2 separate regions of the Homo sapiens genome follow, and region 1 is linked to region 2. The links come from fine-mapping of genetic effects on gene expression. A gene starts in region 2. The other region holds a variant in brackets. All regions are shown on one strand. Distances are between the middles of the regions.

Region 1 (8,838 bases), 41 kb after region 2:
AGCTGTCTAGTCGTTTTTGTTTGGCACCCTACAAATAAATGCTTTTCCTTCTATTGCTGCAAAACTTCACTGTAGATATCTGGTTTTACTGTACCGGGAGAGCAGACCCAAGTTTGGTTCTATAATAGTAATGTAATTTTCATCTATTATAAGTCAAAAGATATCATATCTATTTGTAAGTCAAAAGATATTCATTTGTTTAGGGAAGAAATAGTGGACATCTTCCTCATAATTTAATTCCAATGTAGAATTTACATTAACCTAACATTTTTAATAATGTTAAAAATTCATTAAGAATCTTCTTTAGATACTAAGGCACATCTTATTCTGTCCAACAAATTCCTCTCCAACAGTCATCCCTAATTTCTTCACTTTGAACTGCCAACCACCCATTCTTTAAAAATAGTAGGATAAGAATACTATTTATGAGCTTCCTGTTTGTGAATGGCATTACATGAAAGATCTTGCAAAAATCAGAGGAGAATATTCATGACAATGAAGATGACAGTGAGAGCAGCTAATATTTATTGCTCCTTTTCCGCACCAGGCATCACACTAAGCACTTCATACATGTATCTCATTTAATCTTGACAACAATCCTATGAGCTAAGTACCCTTATGCCATTTGTACTGATGAAAGCACTAAGGCCCAGGGAGGTGAGCTAAGTGGCCCAAGGTCCCACATAGCAAAGACTTATACCACGCAGTTTTGCTCCAGAACCCATGCTCTTAATTGCCGCTATGCTGCCTCTCTAAATAATAAAAATGGGACACTTCCAAAAGGTAGGCCACTATTCTCTATCCACAGTGGTAAAGGTTAAAAAGAGAAATGAAAGATTATATTCAATTCTGTGCATTCAGTGAACATTACTGAATGCCTGATAAAGAAAAGTAGGCTTTGATGTTACATGCATAGCCCTGCTCTGACCTGCACTAGCTGCTGATCTCGGGCCAATCACCCAGCCTCTAATAAACAGGTTAATCATGCTGACCTCATAGGGTGTTGTGAGCATGGGATGAAATGTGAACCACTGGCACAGTGCCTGGCACAAATAACACAGCTTTGTACACTCTGGAAGAGTGGTGTGGCTGAAAGTAGCTTCTGGCAACCAGAAGATAAAAGGGTTAAACCAAACAGTTGTTCTAACACTACAGGTCAAAATAGCAAGTGCTCAGGAAAAAAGAATTTGTGATGAAACACATTCTGTCTATAAAATTGTGTGTAAACATTCACAGTGACCAGCTCCAAGTTGCTGCTGTCTTTCCTTACAGAGATTCCTCTGGATGACAGTCATGGGAAATGGCAAGAAAGACAGGTAGGGAAAGGGTAAGCCAAACGACTGCCCAGGAAATGCAATTACTGATGCTTTCTCCAGTATTGATTTTTGTGGGAACATCAGAGTTATCTGGGTTTTGAGGTGCTAACCCCAGGCAGCCAGAACCCGTGCTGGGGCTGGTCTCAGCTTACCAATGCTTTCCAAGCAGAGCTAACCATTCATTGCTTTATTCATGCATTGCATTCTTTTGTTCTTTCATTCAACACTTATTTATCAAGCCCCACGTCCTGTGCCTGCAGCCCTGAGTCAGCAACAGAGCAGGCCTGCAAAAGCCTCCTCTCTGTCTCAGAATAGAGTCATGGAGGGCTAAATCTAACTGGGCTTTCAATAGAAATTTATAATCTGGAAGGTGGTGCAGGCTCACTTTAAGAAGGCTCACTCAGTGCCTTCATGGTGGAATTGAGGAAACCCAGACCCAGGCAGCAACTCCCCAAGATTGCAGAGATAGTAAGCAGTGAAGTTGGTATGCAAATCCAGGTCTTCTGAAGCCACATCTGTAAGCCCCTCACTATATCACTACAACACCAGGGAGAGAGAGAGAGCCCGGGGTTTCTTTCTCTTGAAAACGACCAGTCACTGGAGCAGAGCTGTTTGCCCATGGAGATGAGTTTTATGTGAGCCAGGTTTACAAAGAGTAGAGTGTGGCTGGGCACGGTGGCTCACGCCTGTAATCCCAGCACTTTGGGAGGCCGAGGCAGGCAGATCACAAGGTCAGAAGATCAAGACCATCCTGGCTAACATGGTGAAACCCCATCTCTACTAAAAAAATACCAAAAAATTAGCCAGGCGTGGTGGTGGGTGCCTGTAGTCCCAGCTACTTGGGAGGCTGAGGCAGGAGAAAGGCTTGAACCCAGGAGGCGGAGCTTGCAGTGAGCTGAGATGGCACCACTGCGCTCCAGCCTGGGTGACAGAGCGAGACTCTGTCAAAAAAAAAAAAAAGGGTAGAGTAAGAAGAAAGAAGAGTGGAAGATTGCAGACAAATATGGCCAGCAAGCATCTCTCTCCAGCCCTCTCTGGAGCCACGCTGTGCCCCTGCTCATGACTTTCAGTTGCTTCACTATGCAATGAAAGTCAAAGCCCAGTTCCCATGCCACACACAGAGGAGTCCCTATCTCCTTTTCTGGCATCTTTTCTCACATTCCTGCCACACAGATTCTCCACTCTAGCCACATACCTTATCCTGTCCCACCCAAGGACCTTGGCTTCTACCATCCGGAAGTCTTCTGCCAACCCCAGGGCTGTCCAAATGCCTTTTCTTTTTCTTTTCTCTTTTTTTTTTTTTTTTTTTTTGGAGACAGAGTTTTGCTCTCGTTGCCCAGGCTGGAGTGCAGTGGCGCCATCTTGGCTGACTGCAACCTCCGCCTCCTGGGTTCAAGCGATTCTCCTGCCTCAGCCTCCCAAGTAGTTGGGATTACAGGTACCCACCACCACGCCCAGCTAATTTTTTGTATTTTTTTTAGCAGAGACAGGGTTTCATCGTGTTGGCCAGGCTGGCCAGGCTGGTCTGGAACTCCTGAAGTTAGGTGATCCACCCACCTCAGCCCCTCAAAGTGCTGGGATTACAGGCGTTATCCACTGCGCCCCACCCCAGATGCCTTTTCTATGAAGTATATCCCAGTTGGAAGTAATTTTTGTTTACCCTGGATTTCTGTACATTCACTGATTGTGCAAAGAGCTTGCCACAGGCGGCCTTGCAAGATAGTTCTCTACCTTCAAGCCTTACTTCCTCCGAAATGAGTTAGGTCCCATGACATTAGAGCCTTCGGGATATTTCTGTACAGTTCTAGTTCCTAGCATAGCGCCTTGTATTCTTTAGGTACCTGACAAATGGCCACCAACCCTCCACCGGAGAGGACTTTTTACCAAGCCTGCAGGAAGGGCCAGCTAGGCAGGCGTCTCCCTGCTTTGCCCAACAGTGAAAGTCACAGCACATTTCTCAATATTATTCACGTTAAAAACATCTTTTTCCTGCTAAATAGACACACTCTCCACCCTCTTTTAGTCAATCTTCCACAAAATTAGATAAGGAGAAATAACCCTTTGTTTCACATCCGCTGACTCAGATACGAGCATTATTCAACTGG[G/GT]CGGGGGTGGCAGTGGATGGGAGGGGGCTGAGCAAACTACAAGTGGAGGAAGAAGAGGACAGCCTAGGAGAGGGAGGGCAGAAGAAAGGAGAGCACATTGTGCAGGGGCACAGTGTTTTGCTGCTCCTTTTTTTCTTTCTTTTCTTAATATGGTCCTGGCTCACAGCAAGGCCACTACCTGACAAGCAGATGAGTCACTTCCTATGGGCACAGCGGGGGTACAACTTGATAGCTACAAAACCAGACAACCTCTCGCCATGCGCTCACCCTGTTCCCAGACCCGGGTGGTGGTCTGGGGGGTTGGAAGGGGCGGGAAGGGCGCTGTCTTAAGAATCATCCTCACATCTCAGGGCTTCGCCCCTCGAGGGAGGTGACCCTTGGCCACCCTCTGCGCAGTTCTCCCTGAAAGGTCATGCCACGTCTTAGCACTCTGGTCCCTGCGCCCCTGCAGGCCTCGCGGATCCCCCACTTGTCTCGACGCAGGGGACGCCCACTTGTCTGACGCAGGGGACGTGGCTGAAGTCAGTCGGGCCGCCCGCTTGCTGCACGGCAGCCGTGGGACTGGCACAGGCTCCTCGGCAGCATTATGGGCAGCTGGTAGAGCGGCCACTTCTGAGAGCCGGATGGGCCTTCCGAGGTCGGGCCGTGCCCCGCTGGGCAGCGCAGAGGGGGTGTGTAGGGCACGCGACTTGGAGCCAGGTCCAGACCCATCCTGGCTCCTCTCAGGGCTCCTTCCCCTGCCCCCATTCCACCCCAGCCCTGCTGGCTGTCCCGCAGGACCCAGCGCCGCGGTAGCCTTCTCTGAACTGCGGCTCAGGCGGAGGTGTCACTCCTGCCTCCAGCCCAGGAGGGCAGGTCAGGTTATGCAACGCGTGCCGCGCGATCTCCCCCCACCTCCAACCCCCTTTTCTCCCGGGTCCACACCGCAGTTCCCACCGCTCCGGGTGTCCTCCCCAGTGCGCCGCGATTTTTGTGTCCAAGCCCCAGAGTCCCTCTGAGACCAACCCCCAGCCAGCACAGACTTCCTGCCTTCCCAGCTCGGGTGAGTAGCCCTGAAACGCCCGCCCCCGCCGCCCCGCGGCCGCAGCATCCTCTCGATGGCCGCGCCTCCGGGACGACGTGGTCCCCTCGAGTAGTACAGGAGCTGCAAGAGAGGCGCGCCGGGGCCAGCAAGCTCTAGAACAGCAGGAGCGGCCCCAGTTGGGACCCCGGGACGACGAGTGGCCGGCAACGCGGCGCCCGCATGGCCCAAGCAGTGTCCGGGAGGGGTCGGGGCCCCGGACTAGGGGCGCAGCGAGGACCGCCCGGAGGCTTTCCCTTGGGCAGCTAAGTCCGAGTCAGCTCTACTCGGATTTCCAGCTTCCAGCCCCGGCTCTGGTGGGGACCATGCCTAGGAGAGTAATCTGAGCTGGGGACTGGGCTCTCCTCCCGCCCCTCCCGGCCCGTGCGCCCCAGGCATGCGCTCCTCCCGCTGCTCCCTTGGCCCCCAGCGCACAGCTCCAAACCCGCGGGGCGAGCCGTCACCTTACTCTCTAGCCTTAGCCGGCCCCCAAATTTAATTTCTGCCCTGGCCGTCAAGCCATAAAAGTCGATTATAATCGCCGCCCCCCCCCGACCACCCCAACCCCCTGCCTTTGCTCTCGCCCCCGTTTCAGACTTCTCTTCTCTTCTTGAAGTCAAGCCCTCAAGTCGGGACTCTAGGAAGTCCGTTTTCTTCGTCCTAACCCCTTTGTATCCTCTCCCATCCCCACCCCTTTCACTCTGCCCTCTGGCTCTGATTTCTCGGCCTTTCCGTTTTTTCTCTCCAGGTAGAGACAGCTCCGGGCCGGGGGTGGAGGATGGTGCGGTGGGGAGGAGGCAAGGAAATTCCCAGCCTTCCTGCGCGAACCTGGGAGACCAGCAGGCACCTGGTCTCGTCCCGCTGGGTCCCCTCCGCACCCAAGACTGTCTTCCCAAGTGGCTTACTCCACAGAAGGAATGTCGTCAGCTGATTATATCTGATTAGCATCCAGTTCCGACGACTCATCCCTTAAAACGTATGCTGCCTGCATCCTCTTCTCTCTGGACCCTCCAGGACGATACCAAGTCGGGCACGCGTTTCCCCTCTTCTAGGTTCCTGCCAGCCTCATGGCCAGTCCGGGGCTTCGAGCCTCCTCTTCCCTAGTTCATCCTACATGCTCCGGCCACATTTGCCTTTGGTAAACTGCACTTTTTTTTTTTTTTTTTTTTGAGATGGAGTTTTGCTCTCATTGCCCAGGCTAGAGTGCAGAGGTGCAATCTCGGCTCACTGCAACCTCCGCCTTCCGGTTTCAAGCAATTCTCCTGCCTCAGGCTCCCAAGTCGCTGGCATTACAGGCGCCCGCCACTAAGCCCAGCTAATTTTTTTGTATTTTTAGTAGAGACGGGGTTTCACCATGTTGGTCAGGCTGGTCTCGAACTGCTGACCTTGTGATCCACCCGCCTCAGCCTCCCAAAGTGCTGGGATTACAGGCGTGAGCCACCGCGCCCGGCCCGGTAAACTTTTTATCCTCTTCCTCCTGAACCCATCATCATCTTCATTTCCTTGTCTGTTAAAGTCTGCCTCTGCCTGGCATTAACACCATGGAATCTAGACTCACATGGCCTTTCCCTTGCATATTCCACCGGCCGGGAGAGGATCTCCCAGATCTGGGGCAATGGGGCTTCTCACTGTCCAAAACGCTCAAGGCCTTTGCCCCCTGCTGGCATTAATGAAATTAATGGGCTTTTTCTTCCTAATTAGTTCACGTATCTGTGAATATTGCTTATTCCTATGAGACAATACTCAGCATTTTAACATATTTTAGATGTAAGCCTTAAAGTACCTTGTTTCCATAAATAATTATGACATTAATTTTTTATCACTATGTTACTCAATTCTTTGAACCCTTTCTAAGTTATATGCCAAAAATCACATAGCCATCCGTCACTAATTTTTTTTTTTTTTTTTAGGGATGTGGTCTCATTAGGTTGCCCAAGCTGGACTTGTACTCTTGGCCTCAAGAGGTCCTTCCATCTCAGTCTCCCAAGTAGCTGGGACTACAAGCATGCACCACTACACTCAGCCAAATACTTTCAATAATTTGCCAGCTGACAACTTGATTGGGTTCTCCTTCAGGTTTGGTAAGGCAATATTTGGAACTCACCTGATTTACTATATATTACACACACACAAATGCACATATATATCGATATATAGATACATATGGTTACCCAGTGGTCAGAGTCCCCATCAGACACCAGTATTTGGGATTATTCTTTTGTCTGGTGCCTAGGGTTTTTTTTCATACCCCAGTGTTGGTGAGAGGCCTACCTTTCTTCTGAAAGTGGGAGGACAACTATGAAAAAAGCATGGGAAAGGGGATGAGCCTCCACCCACACCTGACACCTTAACAGCTGTACCTTTACAGGCAGGTCAGTTTCTGGAATAGGACATAAAATGTTGAGATTCTGAAGATTCATTCTCTTCAAGCCAGCCTCCGCAAATTTTTTCTGTAAAGTGTCAGATAGTAAATATTTCAGGCTTTGCCAGCCATATGGTCCTATCCCAACTCTTTAACTCCAACCTTGTAGCAGCCATAGACAATATGTAAACAAAAGATTATGGCTATGCTCCAATAAAACTTTAATTATGGACACTTATATTTGAATTTCATGTGTCCCCAAATATTACTTCCCTTTTGATTTTTCCCCCAACCATTAAAAAATGTAAAAACCATCTTAGCTCCCTGGGGGGTACAGAAACAGGCAGCAGCTTTCGTCCATAAGCCCTAGTGTGCTGACCTCTACCAAAGTATTCGTGTCAGCATGCCCCATGGAAAGTCTTCAGGTAACCTCAGGGAATGTGTACTCTCATTTGAAATTACTATCCTGGTTCTCAACTCTGGCTACATATTAGGATCTCACGGGGTGCTTTAAAAACTACCATTGCTGGCCAGGCGTGGTGGCTCATGCCTGTAATCCCAGCACTTTGGGAGGCCAAGGTGGGTGGATCACCTGAGGTCAGGAGTTCGAGACCAGCCCAGTCAACATGGTGAAATCCCATCTCTATTAAAAACACAAAAAATTAGCCAGGCGTGGTGGCAGGCACCTGTAGTCCCAGCTACTCGGGAGACTGAGGCAGGAGAATCACTTGAACCCAGGAGGCAGAGGCTGCAGTGAGCTGAGATCATGCCACTGCACTCCAGCCTGGGTGGCAAGTAAAACACCGTCTGAAAAAAAAAAAAAGTACCAATGCCAAAATGCTCAACCCCACTCTTTCATACTGATTCAGTTGGTCTGGAGTGGGATCTGGGCATAAGGTAGTTTTAAAAGTTTCCCAGGTGATTCTAATATGCACCCTGACCTTGGTCCAGTGTCCTAATTGCTGTAGGCTTTGCACACCTCTCAGGGCACAATGCTGCTTTGTGTTGTAGTTACTGTATTTCATCCAGTCGAAGGTGTCATGATTGTAAGATGAAGTCCCATTTTAGAAATCTTAAAATGTAAAAAATATAGGTGTCTTGGGTGAAATGTAATTTTGCCTTGTCTACAAGATTGATCCCCCCTGATGGCAAGGAGCCTGGCTTCCTCCCTCCTGTGTTGCTTTCTCACCATTCACACTTAGCTGAATGTGAGGTGTTCAGTGAATGCTTGCTGAATGCTTATCAACTTTGGGTTGCTTTGTTTATTGCATGTGCTCTGGATTCTTACTTTTCTCTTCACTTCTCTTCCCTGACAGAAGCGCCCTCGAGAAGTGTCTAAAGGAGACAGTTGATAGCCAAACAACAGTTTTGGATTCACTGACTGATTATGAAAGAAGCAGTAGACTGGTATCAAGAATCAGTCAGGTAGGAAATGGAGCACTTGGTGGTGTCTTTGGCTATGGGAAAAAGGAAATGCCCACTGATCCCATTCCTGGAAAATGGGAGAGGAGACAGAATACCCTTCACAATGAGGAAAATGGGATTAGGAATTAGTCTCTGATTGACTGATATTTGTGTCTCCATTATCTGAAATCATGCCGTTTGTTTGAATTGTTTTTTCCAATATGTGCGCTGCTGGTGTTAAGTCTGAATGAAGGAAGGGACTGGGAGTCATTTCCTAACATTGCTATGGTTTGAATGTGTCCCCTAAATTTCATGTCTTGGAAACTTAATCCCCAAATTCAAATGTTGATTGGAAGTGGAACCTTTAGGACATAATTAGGATTAGATAAGGTCATCAGTGTGGGCCCCCACCCCCATGATGGAACTGGTGGCTTTATAAGAAGAGGAAGATAAGAAGGGAAAGAAAGACCTGAGCTGACATGCACATGCTTGACCACTTGTCATGTGATGCCCTTTGCCATGTTGTGACACAGCAAGGAGGCCCTCACCAGACGCCAGTGCCATGTTCTTGGACTTCTCAGCCTCCATATT
Region 2 (8,838 bases):
ACAGAACAAAAAGTCATATCTGAGATCTAACAGGCACAAACAACAAAGTCTTCTGAAACAGTTTTGAACAAACTATGGATTTTAACTGTGTGTGTGTGTGCTATAAAGACTGATCGCACTAAATCCATGTAGTTTTATTAAGAAAAGAAAACCAGCAAGTCTTACTAAAAGATCATAAGCCACTTACCAACTGGTCTGGATTAAGATGCTCTCCACTTTTCAGGCGATCCTTATAATCCTCCAGTTTGAGCTACAAAAGAGAAACTTGTATCTACCATAGTCTGACATAAAATTCAGAAGCAAATAAAGTAAATGCCAGATCTTGTCTCTAGGAAACAAAGTCCTTGAAGTAAGCTATCAATCTGCAAGACTATCATTTTACTATACGGCATGCAGCAACTGTAGATGAGTTCCAGTCAGGGGAGAAAAAATACACAGAATCACATGAGTCTGGAATTACAAAACCTAAGCAGTAATAAAACTATTTTCTCTTAATGACTCTATTAATAACTAGACTACTTAACCCATGGGGACTTACCTACTAAATCATGTGTCCCCAACACAGTAGCTTCTCAACAGGGAACAATTTTGTCCCCCAAAGATACCTGGCAATATCTAGGGATATTTTTGGTTATCACAACTTGGGAGGGGGAAGGGAGGTGAAGAGTGCTACCGGTATCTTGTGGTTAGAGGCCAGGGATGCTGCCAAACATCTTAAAATGCACAGGACAGCCCTTTACAACGAAGAATTATCCTGTACAAAATGTCAGTGGTGTAGAGGTTACGAAGTCCTACTCTAATCTCATGCTTAAACTATTAGTTCAGTTACCTGTTGAATTATGTGGCATTTTCCTAAAAAGAAACTCCTATTGGAAGTACAGAAACACCAAGAATTCTTTTCTATCATTATCATAGAGTAGGCTCATCTTGAAGTTATTTTTCATATTATATTTGATACTTAAGGAAATTATGAAAAATAAATTGCATTTGTTGGCCCCATAATAATGACATAAACCCACTATGGTATTTTTTTTTTTTTTTTTTTTTTTTTTTGAGACAGAATTTCACTCCGTTGCCCAGGCTGGAGTGCAGTGTCGCGATCTCGGCACACTGCAACCTCCACCTCCTGGGTTCAAGCGATTCTCCTGCCTCAGCCTCCTGAGTAGGTGGGATTACAGGCACCCCCCACCACGCCTGGCTAATTCTTTTTGTATTTTTAGTAGAGACGGGGTTTCATCATGTTGGCCAGGCTAGTCTCAAACTCCTGACCTCAGGTGATCTACCTGCCTTGTCCTCCCAAAGCGCAGGGATTACAGGTGTGAGCCACTGCACCCGGACCCACTATGGTACTCTAAAAGCATTCTTTAGGTTCCTCCTGTATTGGCTTTAGTGGAAAAATTCTTTCCCAGAAGGTTGAAACAAAAGTACTCGTACTATCTGGTATTCAAAATTAAAGAGGTACTATAGGTAAGCTAGAGAGCATAAGCATACATATATGTAGTTCCTCCACCTGAGGGAGGCTCCGTCAATAGATCCTGCTTTGATCATTTATCACAGTGATGGGGAATTTGTGCTGACCTGGCACACTCACCTTACCACACTTGTGATCAACTGCATACGTTAAAAAGATAAATGGTGAGAGCTACAGAGAAGCTACTAGCAACTTGCCCTTCTTTACTTTCTTAGGTTAAAAAAAAAAAAAAAAAAGAGTCAACCAGACTCTAAAGAGTCTCTTCACACTCCTCCATTAAAAGCAACTTTAAGGTCTAACTAGGTCTTGGCACAAAAGTACTTAACAACACATAGGTCCAGATAGTCACTCAACCTCACCTGTCCAAAAGCAGAAGAGAAACGTAATACAGCAAAGCAACGTGCAGTCTGTTTCACAGGCTACATGACTCAGGAAATGAAGAAGGATTTAGATCTTTACAACAGCATTTTCTGTAGCTAGGCTTAACTCCTGGGTCTCTTTACAAGGCTGACTACCACGCTTTCACCTAGCAATCTTAAATCTTCACCTAACACCACAAAAGTAAGTGGTAAAACATTTTCTAGTTCTACTACGGTTAAACCTTCCAACGACTGCAGCAGTTATACTGCAATATCAACTGCTGCAGAAAGTCACAAGGAAAACAAGCTAAAAAATCAGCTATTAACACATCTATGAAAAGAAACATTAATACTACATAAGGAATTAATCTCACCTAAAATAGCTAGCTCTTAAAGTATTTCAACAGCAGCATGCATAATGTAACTATGAAGAATATTTTTATTCCGTTGTTTTGACAAATGAAACAGAAAATGTTTAATATTTCCAACACGTAACCTGCTTGTTTAAAGCAGCTAAACCTAAGGTTAGTTAAATTTTTAGTAGAGAACACCTATGAGCTCTGAAAGAAAAATGTCAGCTCCTTAATCTTTAAGATCATGCATCTACAGGACTGGAAGAAAAAAAGTTACCTTCTTTTTCTCGATGTTTCTAATTTTGTGTTTAAGGCATATGAGTCCATTTTCAATATAGGTCTCATACGCTTGGGAAGGAGATGCAGCAGAACTCAGAGTAGACTGCAGGGGGCTCAAGGCCCGCTGGCTTTCCCCATGCTGACTGTGGTTCACTTGGGGCTTGGCTGACTTCATATTCCCCTCTCTTTCCTCCTCTGAATGGCCTGAAGGTGACTGGTAACCAAAAGGGGATGAAAAGAGTTGCACCATTGAAACAGATGAGGCTGAAGGAGGTGGGGGAAAGTTAAGTATAAAATTAGGACTAGAGGGACACAGCCAGGCAATAACTTCCCTGGAAAGTCTAGACCACTCCCTTAAACTCTTTTCCACAGAAGTGAGCTCGAAACCCAATGATGCTTGAGATACTTGTACTTCCATCCTACTTTTAAAGTAATTAGTGCCGCTAGCCAATAAGGATAGCCTTTACATAGGCAAAATCTCCCAATACGGAGGATGTTTCCAGAAATTCGATTTTCCACATAGGGAGGAAGAACTGCAACGGCTTCAGAGCTCCTTTCTTCTCATGAGGGCAGATCACATTCTAAATAATTCCCATGGCCACGTGATGACACCAAAAGAATAAGCTTTCCACACCGGGACCTAAGGCTGAGCCACTCAAACCTCTTTACATGATCCCTCACCACCAGCCCTAACCTCAATCCTGAACGTTTGGAAGAAAATCCAAACTCACAACATTCTTTTATAGCTCTAAGTGAACCAGCAGCTTCTTGAACAAGAATGCTAACTTCCCCGATTGCTCTGGGGCCTACAAGGCAATCCATCACTACTGGACATTTGCAGACAGGTACTCTCTCAACCTGCAGGAACCCCGCGTTTATTCTCAGTTGTTTGGTTTAGACTAGCCCAAAACCGCTTACACCCAACCAGTTTAAGAGCTCATTCTAGCGAGCCCTTCCCGTGCCCTAATCAGTGGCCCTTGCGCACTTACGTATCCGTCTCTCGACCTCCAAGCACCCGAGGTATCCCTTTCTCCCCCCTTAGGAGCATCCCCAAACCAAGGACAGAACAGGCCCCATGCACGCCAGCGCGCACCCCCTCAAGTCTCCGGGGGAGCCTGAGCGAAGAGCACCTCTCCCGAGCGGCCACGGAGAGCCCTGCAGGCACCGACCCCCACCCTTCCCACAGCCGCCCCGGGTACGCAGAAGCCGCTTCTGCAAGGCCCCGGGGGAGGCTGACCTGCGGAAAACGCACCGACCGCGGCCCTCGGGAGCCCCGCCCCGCCCCGGGGATGCCAAGCCGCCCCTCCACCTCGCAGCGGCGCCGGCCGCCCAGACCTGCCCACCCTCGCCGGGTCAGCCGCCTCCCTCCGCCGCGCCGACCGAGGCCGCCGCAGCCCGACTTCACCTCCCCAGGCAGCCGAGGCCGCCGCTGCCGCAGCCCGGGCCCGCCTTCCAAAGCCTGGGGGAGGCAGGAGCGCTGCGGAGGTGGACCGGCGCCACCCCGCACTCGCGTCTCCTCCTCCTGTCTCCTCCCTCTCCCCTCCCGGTCCTCGCCCGCGGCCTCTGCGGCGCCAGAGACCCAGCCGACTCAGCCGCTCGCGCCCAGGCCCGCCCACCGCGCCGCGCGTGGCTTTTGTAGGCCGCGCCCCGCCCCGGCCCGCTCCGCCCTCGGCCGCCCCGCCACCGCCTCCTTCCGGTGCTCCTTCCCGGCTGCAGCTGGCCGCCAGCGCTTGTCGGGTGTTAGTTCCGGGCCCAGCTTGGGCTGGTGGTAGGTCGGGAGAGGGCGCGGTCTCCCAGCCTTTGCGCAGATTGCGGGGCACCAGGTGGGGCCGAGGCGACGCCGAACGCCGGCAGGCCGGAAACCGCGCAGCCCCGCTGGACCTCGCTGATTGCCGGCGGCACCGGTGGTTTCGCGACCTTGAACAGGTGACTCCAATAGCTCCAGGAGGGCAGCGAGCCCTTCGCGGAACTACCAGATAAGCCATGCTTGAGGCTGTCGTAGCCTAGTGGGTAGTCGTGAAATGCAGATGCGCCTTTGCCCCTCAGATAGCATCTTTCATAGTAGGATGGGGAAAAAACACCGTTTCCTTACCGGGGAATCAGCCTGTAAGAGCAGAATGCCCCAAATCAGCATCGCCATAAAAACGGAGTAGGTGACTTCGCAACCTGCAATAATAGGATTGAGTTTATTCAAGCCGTATTATTTGTTCATGTGACACACATTAATTGACTGGCACGCAGAGAAAGCTGTAAAAAATCTTTGTAAGGTTACATAAAATTAAGAGAAAAGTCTGGAAATATGTAAAAGTTTATTGAGGAAAGGAAGGTGTTTCTGATACCAAATAAGAAACACACACACACACTCAGCAATACTTTGCCCCAACATGTGTTTACTTATTACACCAAGTGGAGTTTTTTAGGTCCTGATTGTCCCTGACGCTCTGATAAAAAATATTGAGACTAGCAAAAGAACAGAAAATTCAGAAGAAGAATCAAGGAAACAAAGGTCTAGTTTTAAAAGCCTTGGTCAACTTCACACAAATTAATTTTAACATTACTTAATACATTTTTTTGGCATCTATTATCCGTGTTCTTTTCGGTCCCTGGTGACATAATGTACCCTAATGTTGCATTTTAACTTTGAATCTCTGAATCCCATATGTGTTCTTCAGGGTCAGAGAAATACTAGATTTTCCCTTTTTCTCATTGTTTATAAACAGAGAAACGCAGAAGATGCTGAACATGAGGAGAGGAAGGCTATGCCTTCACCTTTGGTAACACAAAAAACAGTGGCCATAAGAAAAAATGTGAAGGACACACTGTTGGATCAATGAGTTGACACAAAGTTACAGCACAGCCTGAGTTGTAGTCCGAGCTAATGATGAACCTAAAAATGGTATTTCAGTCAGATTAATCATGAAATGTTTGCCCCCTGCCGGCGCAGTGGCTCAAGCCTGTGATCCCAGCACTTTGGGAGGCCGAGGCGGGGTGGATCACCTGAGGTCGGGAGTTCGAGGCCAGGCTGGCCAGCGTGGTGAATATCCATCTCTACTAAAAATACAAAAATTAGCCGAGCATGGCGGCATGTGCCTGTAATCATGGCTACTCAGAGGCTAAGGCAGGAGAATCGCTTGAAACCCGGAGACGGACGCTGCAGTGAGCCGAGATTGTGCCGCTGCACTCCAGCCTGGGTGACAGAGCAAGACTCTATCTCAAAAAAAGAAAGAAAGAAAGAAATGTTTGCCTTCTAATCGGTCAGGCAAAAAGGAGGCCGTAAATTTTAAATTTTCTACTAAATGGATATTCTTCTAAATGAATAAATCCATACAGATTTACTTCTCAGGAAGGATTATAAAAATGCATCACGAAAGAATGCAAAAGCAAAAATAATTGAATTTCAAGTCCAGTAGGGTACAGTCTGTATACGTATGGCGTGACATTTGTAGGAGAACATACCACAGTAGATACTCTTGAAGCAATGTCTTCTGAACAAGTTAAAAAGATGATTCAGATAAAAGCTTTTCTGCTAGAGGAGATCTTTAAAGTCAGTAAGTCTGGCTTACTTTGAAAGCACATGTCCCCAAAACTTTTATTTGTCAGGAGTTTAGTTTATTTTACCCTCTCCCACTCCCTATTTTCTGTAAGACCGTGACTTTTCTTGCCAACTGTGAGGCAGTATCTGTGGCATGCCACCTCCAAGCTTAGCAAGGAATAACTATATTGGAAATATGATAAAAAGTGTTGTCTCGAATCATTGATAGAAGAATATATTCATTTATTCATTCAACAGATGTTTACTTAGCACTTGCTATGTAGTAGGTGATAAGGCATAATGGTGACTGAGACAATATAGCTTCTGCCTTCGTGGAGCTAAGTGGGAATTCAGTAAAAGCTATAGATGTAAATGGCAAAAACAACCAAATCAAAAAACCCGAAGACAAAAATACTAAAGACTTTAATAATGGATGGTTTGATTTCTACAAAAACAGCCAGACTTTACGTCCTTTGAAAATGTGAAGGTGTTAAATATGCACTGTCTGACAAATGTTCAATTGCTGCAGGGATGGTTATGCTGTAGTCACTTAAAATTAATATAGCTTCATATTGTTGAAACTGGAAAGATAAATCCACCAAAGGATGTGAAACCTGGTAGCGTGTTAGTAGAGATATGAGAAATTATCTTAGACACATGGTTGTGGGTGATAGAAGTCTGTTTCTTATTGGCTCTACGAGACTTTGTGGAGAATTGCCACCAAGAGACAGAGAGAGAGGGAGAAAGTCACCAAGAAAAATAATAAGAAGGCTAAGAAAGAAAAAGACAGGAACAATAACATAAGGTTGTTAAAAAGATAGTACTTTTGGCCGGGTGTGGTGGCTTAACGCCTGTAATCCCAGCACTTTGGGAAACCAAGGCAGGCAGATCACCTGAAATCAGGAGTTCAAGACCAGCTTGGCCAACATGGCGAAACCCCATCTGTACTAAAAATACAAAAATCAGCCGGGCATGGTGGTGCGCCCCTGTAATCGCAGCTACTTGGGACACTAAGACAGAAGAATCGCTTGAACCCAGGAGGAGAAGGTTGCAGTGAGCCAAGATTGCGCCACTGCACTCCAGCCTGGATGACAAGAGCGAAACTCTGTCTCAAAAAAAAAAAAAAAAAAAAAATATATATATATATATACAGTACTTTCACATACTTGCTGATTCATAGAGTGTCTATTCAAATATTTGAGAAACTTTTTATGAAAGTAAAGAACTGAGAAATATAGACCTCAGGTAGGAAAAAAAACTTGCCATAATAGTTTAGGGTATTTTTAGAGAAATATCTAGTTTGTAAGATTAATAATTTGGTAGGCTTATTTTTTCATAAAATTATACATTCCTATTGGTTTTGTTGATACTGTTTTTCTGATATTGAAGTTAATGCATTAATAGTGCTCCACCATTAAGTACCTTTGAAATAAAAGTTCTTTAGAGGAGGAGTAATCAGTGTAGAACTTATGAATGTGTGTCATTAAATCAATAATATCAAGCCCATAAAAATATGATTTCTGTCCAACTTTGAAGTATTATAAAGTGTCAACAGCATGGGCTTTGGAGCCAGACACACATGGATTGGATTCTTGTTCCTGCCCCTTACTAGCTGAATGATCTTGGGCAAGTGACTGAAATTCTGTGGGCTTCAGTTTTTTCAGCTGTAAAACTGCTGATAATAAAACAAACATAATATTACCTATTAACAGCATTGTTAAGGATTTCATTTCGTTTCTGTAAAAGCATCTGACTAGAGACTAGGCCATGAAAACATATCCTCCACTGAGATACCTGTATTTGCTGCTTTTGCCATAATACGAAGCCCAGCATTTCTCCTAGTAGCCAAGGAGAACTAGAGAACTGTGGAATTTATGGCTAAGGAATCCCACCCCCCCGCCCTTATTTGAAAGACAAGGTATATAAAGCTGGTGGACATTTGTGAGTTTTCCAAGACCTAAAGAATCTAGGTCTTCTGCCCTCTAATGCAACATGCACTCCAGGCCGCTTCATCCCTTTCCCTTGCTGCTTCCATGGAGTAAATAAAGTATAGAAATAGGCAATTAAACTTGAAGATTGAAACCAAAAAGAATAAGCAATTCAGTGTTACAGTGTCTTCAAAGGAATTCATTCAGAAAGACATTTTAAAATATTCATATCTTTTGATCCAGTAGCCTTTATTTTAGGAATCTCCCCTATCAAAATAATCAGAGATGCAAACAATCACTTATTTATGAAAATGCTAGGCACCACATTTTTTTAAGTGGTGGGAAATTGTAAACAACAACCTAGACACTCAACAATAGAGAAATGGCTAAATAATGTGACTCTAAGCCATGAATTTTAATTCAAGTAGTACAAATCATCTTTTCAAAGAATATTCAATGACATGATATTATATGAAGTGAAAAAAGGGCAGGATAAAACACGGTATAAAACATTTAGTAAGATTGTGACTTTGTAAAATATTTCATTTTAAATATGCATGGAAAAGGCTGAAAGATGTTTTCACTTTATTTTTATAGCATATGTTTAGTTTTTATACCAAACCAGAAAAAGTATTTTCCCAAAAACATGAAAGCTGCCCCCTCCACCGATTACCATTATTAACTTTTTGCTTATATTCTTCTAGACTTATTTCCAAGAAAATATCTGTATAATTTTTTACAAAAATGGGAATGTACTAAACATTTTGCAATTCTGCTATTTTGACTTAAAATATAATGAGCATCTTTTTATTAAAATAAACTTGGTGTGGTGGCTCACGCCTGTAATCCCAGCACTTTGGGAGGCTGAAGCGCGCGGATCATGACATCAGGAGATCGAGACCATCCTGGCCAACAG

What was found.
Region 1: its variant is fine-mapped to the expression of CAPRIN2 in fibroblasts (GTEx, PIP above 0.99). The same link has a PIP of 0.9 or more in atrial appendage, left ventricle, subcutaneous fat, tibial artery and tibial nerve.

What each region holds. Positions count from the first base shown.
Region 1 is chr12:30,791,754-30,800,591 of GRCh38, forward strand. It overlaps LINC00941 (long intergenic non-protein coding RNA 941), which reads left to right and starts at 3,928. Exons shown (of 5, transcript NR_040245.1): 1 at 3,928-4,463; 2 at 6,392-6,562; 3 at 8,160-8,268; 4 at 8,781-8,838. RefSeq lists enhancers at 1,211-1,712, 2,214-2,715, 2,716-3,215, 3,718-4,217, 4,218-4,719. The variant G/GT (reference allele first, on the strand shown) is at 3,422.
Region 2 is chr12:30,750,884-30,759,721 of GRCh38, forward strand. CAPRIN2 (caprin family member 2) reads right to left here and starts at 4,068. Exons shown (of 19, transcript NM_001385503.1): 1 at 3,868-4,068; 2 at 2,461-2,676; 3 at 188-250. The coding sequence starts at 2,637. It overlaps LOC645485 (a long non-coding RNA gene), which reads left to right and starts at 4,191. Exons shown (of 2, transcript NR_135046.1): 1 at 4,191-4,388. RefSeq lists enhancers at 3,442-3,521, 3,525-3,694 and silencers at 3,622-4,301, 5,393-5,596.